Linked DNA regions of Homo sapiens: region 1 is linked to region 2. Evidence: fine-mapped expression QTL. A gene starts in region 2. The other region holds a variant in brackets. All regions are shown on one strand. Distances are from middle to middle.

The links. PIP is the estimated chance that this variant, and not a neighbour inherited with it, causes the effect.
Region 1: its variant is the best candidate, but not a certain one, in a credible set for the expression of FANK1 in testis (GTEx, PIP 0.55).

The regions. Positions count from the first base shown.
Region 1 is chr10:126,034,415-126,038,810 of GRCh38, reverse strand. ADAM12 (ADAM metallopeptidase domain 12) reads left to right here. Exons shown (of 23, transcript NM_001288973.2): 20 at 462-570; 21 at 2,486-2,665. Among named protein-coding and RNA genes, the nearest start is that of FANK1-AS1, 63 kb to the right of the region's middle. The variant T/C (reference allele first, on the strand shown) is at 2,265.
Region 2 is chr10:125,893,907-125,898,302 of GRCh38, reverse strand. FANK1 (fibronectin type III and ankyrin repeat domains 1) reads right to left here and starts at 1,739. Exons shown (of 11, transcript NM_145235.5): 1 at 1,648-1,739. The coding sequence starts at 1,660. It also overlaps a transcript of DHX32 not described here. RefSeq lists silencers at 1,169-1,463, 1,555-1,694, 1,855-1,934, 2,155-2,234.

The DNA.
Region 1 (4,396 bases), 140 kb before region 2:
TCCTTTACTTCCCTTCAAACAACAATGTGCTGCTTATTACATAAGCTAGCAGGGTGTCAGGAAATTCCACTGATGTGTTTTCTCCCACCCTTATATTAGTAATTTTTATACAACATGGAGACATTGAAATATTTTCATCAGATGGGGTAGCTTTTGATCCAAATATATTCAAAGACATTATCGCTGAAATGCCAGCTTCATACAAATCATCTTCCAGGTGTCACTACACTGCATTTCTATGGAGCGTGAGAACTAATTTGACAAAATAGAGGTTTTGAGGGAAAAACCAGTATTTATTTTTTAATCTCCTAAGAGTGTTATTAGGTAATTTTTCCTTTGCATGTTTAGCACACTGAGTTAAGTAAACTGTCTTTTGAGTGCCACTATGAGCAAAGTGTAAAAAGTCAAGTCAGTGAGAAGGGGAAACACGCTTGGTCAGCAGGTATGGGATTCTGTTGCAGGTGTGTGCGCCCTTCCCGGCCACCCCGTGGCTTCCAACCCTGTCAGGCTCACCTCGGCCACCTTGGAAAAGGCCTGATGAGGAAGCCGCCAGATTCCTACCCACCGAAGGTGAGTCTTGAGTAGATGTGAGTGCTCAGGGCACACATGCAGACATGAGGTTTTCAATACGAGACTGAATAAGAATGGGATCCTAGAGGCGCTGCCTGTGAAATGCTGAGTCAGCCTCACTAGGTCAGCAGGCTCTGAGGGAGGGTCTCTGTGATCTGGGGCCAGAGGGAGGCCCCACGGTGCCCCCATGGAAGCCCACCTAGATCCTGTTGGCGCACTCAGTGCCCCCTGCATGATATGGTGCAGCATAGTGTGAGCTGTGATCCCTTCAGTCACCCAGACCAGCCACATTTCTGGGGCCCCACTGGGTCTGCAGCCCGAGCTGGCTCCTGACACCAGCCCCCAATGCCAGCCCCACCATGGTTTCCAAATGCCACCACCTGGCTTTAGGTGAGCTGCTTTAGCCCACTGTTACTCTTAAAATATTTTTCAAAAGTTACATGGAGCTCTCAGAATTGACCATTTTGCTCCAGCCCTGAGCTGAGGAAGCCCTGTCCACCCTGTGGTTTCAGAGAACTGGATCCTTAACCCAGAGTACCTCACGGCTCCCTGCTGTCTCTTAACCCTCTTGCTACCCTGGTGAATTACAGCTAGAGTTCATTCTAATAGTTCTTCCCCACCGAGTTTTTCTGATGTACCCACAAGAATTCTTGAATATTGAACTTAGTCAACAAGAGTCCAAATTATAACAGTGAACAAGATTGGTGTCAAAAAAAATAAGTGATTGAAAAATCATTGCTGCATATGCAGTAGGCAATAAACTGTTTTAACTCCCTTGATCCAAAAAACGCAAAGGGTGGGGCTCCAAGGAGGAGGCTGCCATTCCCAATAAGCTTTACCCCTGCTCGTCCCCAAAGGTGGAACCATAAGCGAGAACGGCTTTGTGTGGTAGCCAAAAGCACATCTTCATTTTCGTAAAAAAGAAAAATGCAGCTCTATTAAAAAAAAAAAAAAAGCACAGCCTTATTTTTGAGAGCCCCAAACTAGAAACAATCCAAATATCCATCAACCAGTAAAAGGATAAACAATGGTATATTTGCACAATGGAATGAACCATTGATGTATACAACATTGAGGATGAATCTCTAGATAATTATTCTGAGTAAAAGAAGAAAAGCCAGAGTATATACTCTGTGATCCCACTTATATACAATTCTGACAAATGCAAACTGATAGTGACAGAAAGCAGACTGATGATTGGAGGGAGAGGGAAGGGAGAAGCATGACAAGAAAACTCTTTGGGGTGATGGATGCATTCATTTGTCCACTTGTTTGTTGTGAGGGTTTCATGGGTGTAAACACGTCAAAAAATGACCAAGTTGTATACTTTATGTCAACTATACCTCAATTAAGCTGTTTTTAGAAAGAGAGGAAGGAAGGGGTAGAAGCCTGAGGTATAAGGGTCCCTGCAGCACCTGTTCTAAGAACAAGGGTTACCATATGGGAGAACGTCTCCAACTCCAAGCCCCAACCTCAGCCCTGGCTTCCTGAAGCCGCAACTCTCCTTTCCCCAGTGGTTTTCTCAGTTCTCATTGAGCCTTGAACACATTAAGCTGTATCTTATTTTCACATCTCTTTTGTAACTTCCCTAAGATCTCGGTCCGTGTCTTTCTTTATACTTGGTACTTTTTCAAGTGCTTTGCACCTATTTGTTAAACAGTTTTTTAAAATCTAAACAAAAATCGATCCTTCTA[T/C]TCCAGATTTGGTGGGGTGGAGGCAGGTGATGCTTCTGTTTGAATTTTGAAGTTTAAATAAATACAAAAATAATTCCCCTCTTGTGTACATCCTTGATTTCTTTCCTTTACCCCACCTTGGCCTTCAGCTATAACAGATGAGTTAGCACTGCTTTTTCCTTAAGGAGTTACTGATATTTTTGAAACCCGCTATAGCATGGCTTTTTACTTTGACTGTACAGGACAATCCCAGGAGATTGCTGCAGTGTCAGAATGTTGACATCAGCAGACCCCTCAACGGCCTGAATGTCCCTCAGCCCCAGTCAACTCAGCGAGTGCTTCCTCCCCTCCACCGGGCTCCACGTGCACCTAGCGTCCCTGCCAGACCCCTGCCAGCCAAGCCTGCACTTAGGCAGGCCCAGGTATGCTTTCAGTACTAATATGATAGGATGTAGTTCAAATCCAGATTCTGCTACTTGTTAATGTGTGAGCTTAGATAAGTTGCTTAACTTCTCGGTGCCTCTGTAAAATGGAGATAATTCAGCTACTCAGATGGTTAAATGAGATAATCCACATAAAGCAGTTAGTTTGGTGCCTGGAGTATAATAATAAGAGTGTCATATATTTTAATTTACTAGTTATAATTTTTTAAGTATTTGAATAGTTAGACCACTCATGCAACTAAACGATGACACTATTGAGAATAGCAGAGGGACTAGTAATAATTAGGCCTGTACAGTAAAATAGAGACAGGCAATCTAAGACAGATGGTCACCCTAAGAAGCATCAGTTATACTCTCTCATCATTTTATTTCAAAATTATTTACAAGAACTATACCACCTATATACAGAGTGTCTCCGTACCAAACTTAGCACTGTATTGTTTATGTATATCATCTCATTTTTATGCTGTTTTTGGAAGTAACCATTTCTGTTTGCTGCAATAACGAATGATATTTCACAATAGAAAACTTGAAGGGAGGAGAAAACAAGCAAATAAGTAGGAGATAATCACTGGTAATTTTTCACTGCTATTAATATTTTTTGTTTATAATTGTGTATTTTAACATAATTTATTTGTACACAGTTTTATATGCTGCTTTGTTTTGCCTTAAAAATTAGTCCCATTTACAATGGCATTAAAAATCCTATTTAATAATAACACTATACTTGAATATAAATGTTTAAGTACTTGCAAATTATTGGGCATGTATTGATGTATCATTTTTTGCTGTTAGAAAGTTCTAGAGAGGTAAATCTTGGGACCTCTTTATTCCCCTAGGAGAGATTCTTAAAAGTAAAATATTGGGTTGAAAGATTGTATGACCATTTTAAGCCTCATAATATAAAAATATTTTTTCAGAACTCATATACATTTGCGTTCCCACATTGTTATTGTCTTTCTCACCATGACTTTGCTAACACTAAATTTTAACTTTTACCAGTTTGATAAATACAACAAAATATCTCAATTTGTTGCTGTCTAGTAGTTCTGTCAGTTACCAAGAGGAGATGTTGGACTTTTCCACTATAATTGTGTCTCCTTTGAGTTCATCAGTTTTTGCTTCATGTATTTTGAAGCTCTGTTGTTTGCGATACACACAATTAGGATTGTTGTGTCATCTTAGTAAAGTGACCCTTTTATCATTATGTCATGTCTCTGTTTAGCTCTGGTAATCTTTGTTCTAAAATCTACTTTATCTGATATTATTATATCCACTCCAGTTTTATTTTGATTAGTATTAGTGTTGTCTTTTTGCAATCATGAATGATATTTCACAATAGGAAACATCATTCATGATTGCAGCAAACAGAAATGGTTACTTCTAAAAACAGGATAAAAAGCAAAGTATGAATTTTTCCATCCTTTTAACATACCTATGGAATTACATTTGAAAAGCGTTTCTTGTAGACAGCATATAGATTTTTTCATCCATTTAGCCAGTCACTATATTTTAATAGGTGTGTTTAGAACATTCATATTTAATGCAATTGTTGATATGTTTGGATTTAAGTCTACCATGTTAATATTATTCTGTTTGTTCTCTCTGGTTTTTGTTTCATTGTGCTTTTTCTGTGTTCCTGTAGATTAGTATTCCATATTGATTTATCTGCATTTATGTTTTTGAGTATATATCTTTGTATTTTTTTTG
Region 2 (4,396 bases):
CAGGCACTATAAATGAATGAATGGATAAAGACAGCACTGAAGAACTTGAAATTATAGTTTACACATGAAAACAGTAACATAAATCTGAAGAAATAAAGTTCTTTTTTTTGTTTTTTCGAGATGGAGTCTCGCTCTGTCACCAGGCTGGAGTGCAGCGGTGCAATCTGGCCTCACTGCAACCTCCGCCTCCCGGGTTCAAGCGATTCCCCTGCCTCGGCCTCAGCGTCCCAAATAGCTAGGACTCCAGGCACGCGCCACCACACCTGGCTTTTTTTTTTTTTTTTTTTTTTTTTTTTTTTTTTTTGTATTTTAGTAGAGATGGGTTTCACTATGCTGGCCAAGATGGTCTCAATCTCCTGACCTCGTGATCCGCCTGCCTCAGCCTCCCAAAGTGCTGGGATTACAGGCGTGAGCCACCGGGCCAGGCCAAGTTGCTGTTTTTAAAAGGTATATTTCAACTCACTTCTCTAAGGCGGGAATATACACAGCCTGCCATCAGTTTGACATAAAACAAAAATTTTAGCGTTCTTGTATGCTAAATTTCTTTTACTAGGTTAAAAAAATGTAGAATCCAAAGAGCTGTAAATGCAAATGACAAATACTGTACAAAATCTATCAAGCAACTATAAGTCACAACTTGCAAGCTTTCTCCTCAGCAAATGAGTTAAAAGGAAAAGTATTTGAAACTTTCTTGGTGGAAAACGAATGACCTTTAAAAATGCCAACATTTTCCCCAGAGAATAGATTTGGTCTGAGTTCTTCATTTCTGAAATTGTACAAGATAAGACGACTTGGTTTGAGAGTCAAACTGCATCCTTCTATAAAGGTTTTAGATAAATTTTAAGTCTCCATACAAAACACTCCCCTTATTTTGAGAACAAAAGGAACAATAAGACAGCTTAGGCGGGGCAGAGAAAGAAAGGCCTTGAAACAAAGTCCCTGGAAAGGTAAAAACAACAACAAAAATAGTAAGTTAGAGCTCGTGTTTAGATCTGATAACTCAAAACTGCACAACTTTTGCCATACATCGAAAGCAACATGGGAAAACAGAAAAAGAGATTACAAACATTTTTTGAGTGTCCTAACTTGTAGAACCCCTAAGAATGAATCAAATACACTTGGACAAAGCTCTTCTTTTCTCTCTCTCTCCTTCAAGTCGCAGACTAGGGGTGTGGGGCGGGGGGCGGGGAGTAAGACGGGGTCTCTAATAAATACAAGACCCAGCCTCGGACGTGTTTAATTGCTGACATTTTAGAAGAAAAATGGGCTACTTACAATTAATGAACCAAACTACCAAACTAAAATCATGAGTAGGAGGAGGAGTAAATGGAACCGTCCGGGCGAAGTTTCAGGAAGACGCACGCTGGGGTCGCTGCGCCCTTCCCCACCCATACCTCGGGGCTCTCCAGTCGCTCCCAGCCCCCAGCGCGGACTCTAGGGCGCCGGCGGCCCAACCATACAGACTTGGCAGGATGTAGCCCCCTTCTCCCCTCTCCAGGAGAGAAAAGCGCGAGGAGACGCAAACCGTATTTCCGTGTCCGAGCGTTGAAACCTGCGGAGTCGCGCGCGGGGCGCCCACACTCGTTCCCGGGGAGCCCCAGCCCGGTCGCCCGCCCCGGTCCCAGCTCCAGCCCGGGCCTCCCTTACTCTGGGGCTCCATGGTCGGCTGCTCCCCGGCCTCCGCGGGCGAACCCCCGGACTCCTAACGCCTCTCAGCCAGGGCCGGCGTCGCTACGGTTGCCCTGACAACCCGGAGGCGAAGTGGGCAGAACTAAAGGGACGGCGAGCGGGAGGGACCAAAAGCCGCAGGAAGTGAGGGAGCGCGTGAGGACCCGCGCGTCGCCGGGGACACTGAGCGAGGGTAGCGGCCAGGTCACCGGCTGAGGACACTGCTCCTGAAGCCCGGTCAGGCGGTCGCGCCCTCCCTGGCGGCCCCCGCGGCCCCGCAGGACCTGTGCCCCGACGTCGCCGACCCGCGGTCCCCGCTGTCGCCGACCCGCGGCGTCCGTCGGGCGAGTGGGCCTGCCCGCGGGTAAGGCGCCGGCCCTGGGCCGCCCTCCCGGGAATCGGGAGCCGCCGCTGCAGGTAACAGCGGGGCCCCGGCGGCGGAAGGGGTCGGGGGTCGGCGCAGGGGCGGGCGCGCCCCGAGCCGGGTGGGCGGCCCCGGCGCACCTGTTGTAGCCGCCTGGGGGTCCCCTGCCCGCAGTTGGCCGTGGACGTTCCCCGCCCCGACTCCGAAACGCCGAGGGCGGCCTCCGCGCCTCCTGCTCCGGGAGCCGCGCCTCAGCGGGAGGACGGAGCCCTGCGGGCAGCCCTCGCACCAGGGGCTCCCTCCGAGCCCGGGCATGGGCCGGGCCTGGGGCGGTCCCTCGAGCCCCCCTGACGGGAAGCGTGGAGCAATGCGAGCCGCCGCCGTCGTCGCTGTCGTCCCCAGTGAGCCTGGCGCGTCTCCTGAATCGCGAGAGCCAGGAGCACGGTTTTGCCCGGCTTTGCCCCGTCATCCCCGTGTCCCATTTCAGGCAGGGGGCCCGGGTTGGATCTTTCTCGCTGGCTTCGTTTTTTGTGTGTTGATTTGTTTCAGTCCTTCGCGTTTCCGGTTGAGTTACGGAATCTGCCCACACGTTTTGTGGCCAAACTTTGTAGGGCTGTGAAACAATGTAACATTATCCCACACAATAGTCTTTCATACTGGTTTTAAAACACAGTGATTCAGGGTTTGCTTTAAGGAAGCTTTGAGGATCACAAGAGATTATTATCTGGTAGGTTGTAAAAATTCAAACAACCAGGAGAGTATCATAGGTTCCGGAACACCAGAAGGAGGAAAGAAAAATGGAGACGAGAGAAAAAGGATAAGCAAGAAAGTGCAGGGGCATTAAGGGTGTGGGGGGCTGCAGGATTGATTTGGTATTCAGGTCTGGAGATTATGGCCCCTCTATTAATTCCAACCGCTGCTCCAGACAGTACTTGAGGGAAATGGAAGGAAGAGCCGTTTTGGGGGTCATGGAAGTGATTACTAATCTTGCCAGTAGAAAGATTTCCACTCCATGGATGACAAGGACACTAAGGAGAATTACTTTCCTCTTAGGGAATCATTGAGAGGTTAATTGAACTTGAGAAGCATATATTCTGTGATGGAAACTGACATTTATTATATTCTTCCAAATTAGGTTTTCCCCCTCTCAGACTATATGGGGACTTTTTCAGATTAATTGTCAAAACAAGAAGGTTTATGTGTGGATATTGACAAGCAGCGTGATATATACAGAACACATAATTCTTAAGCTGAAGTATTAAGGTAATAAATTAAGGGTGGAAAGTAAACACTTCATGGAACCTTAACTCCCTGTTCCTGAAATTTAGAGACAGGGGCTTCATTTTTAGACAGAAAGTATAAAGATCAGCAGTACTCCTGTATCCAGTGGTTCTCAAGTTCTAGTTTACATATCATTAGCAAAATCACAAAGCGGTCTTTTCATTCAAGATACAAATAGAGTGATCAGTATATCATAATCAAAAGTGACAAGATAGTGATTTAAAAAACACCTGGCATTTATTGACAAAAGAAAAGGTAGGATTAAGTCTGCTCAAACAGTAAAGGATTAGCATTAGTATTTTTTTAAAAAGAAGAAACAACAGTGCAGGTCTCTATGCTAAAGTAATAAGGACTGAAGAAGTTTTAAGTTTGGAAAAAATGGGGATATGTATTGGTGAAACACTTTGTAATCATATAGAATGATTATTTTATCAGCAGCTGTTAAGTTGACTTTGAGGAAATTTTGAATTGAAATACTTTAGGTGACAAGTAAAGGCAACTGTGAAAAGCAACATTTGATTTTAGGGGACAGGGTACCTGTGAAAGAAGACTGGTTAGGAGTGGAAGTCAGGCGTAAAGGCACTGAAATGTCCGAGGCAGGGACAATATTCAGTTTCTCTTCCTCTATCACCTTGTGCAATGTACCTGTTAAATGTTTGTTGAATGAGTGAGAAGGGCTTTAGAGAAATTGTTTTGGATATAGGGATACACTTTACTATTGGAGAAAACACCCGAGATCAGAAAGTTGCTAATGAGATAGGGGTGGGGGATGAATGGTAAAGACACTCTACCTTTTTGGAGTTTTCTACCATTGTGTTTTATTTCTTTTCACGGGCATGTTCAGTATGTTATTAGTGGTCAAATGAAAAGGAATAAAGTTCTATATATATTTTTTTAAGTCTCCAAGCTCATTACTAGATAGAATAGTTACATTATTGTTTACTTTGCTGATGTTTAACTAAATGTAGCAAACTGAAGCATTATGGATCGGGAATAACAAAGTAACAATGAAGAGACAGATGTAGTCTTTTTCTTATTTAAATCTCTTGACTACCTCAGAATTCAAAGTAGAAATAACTTTAG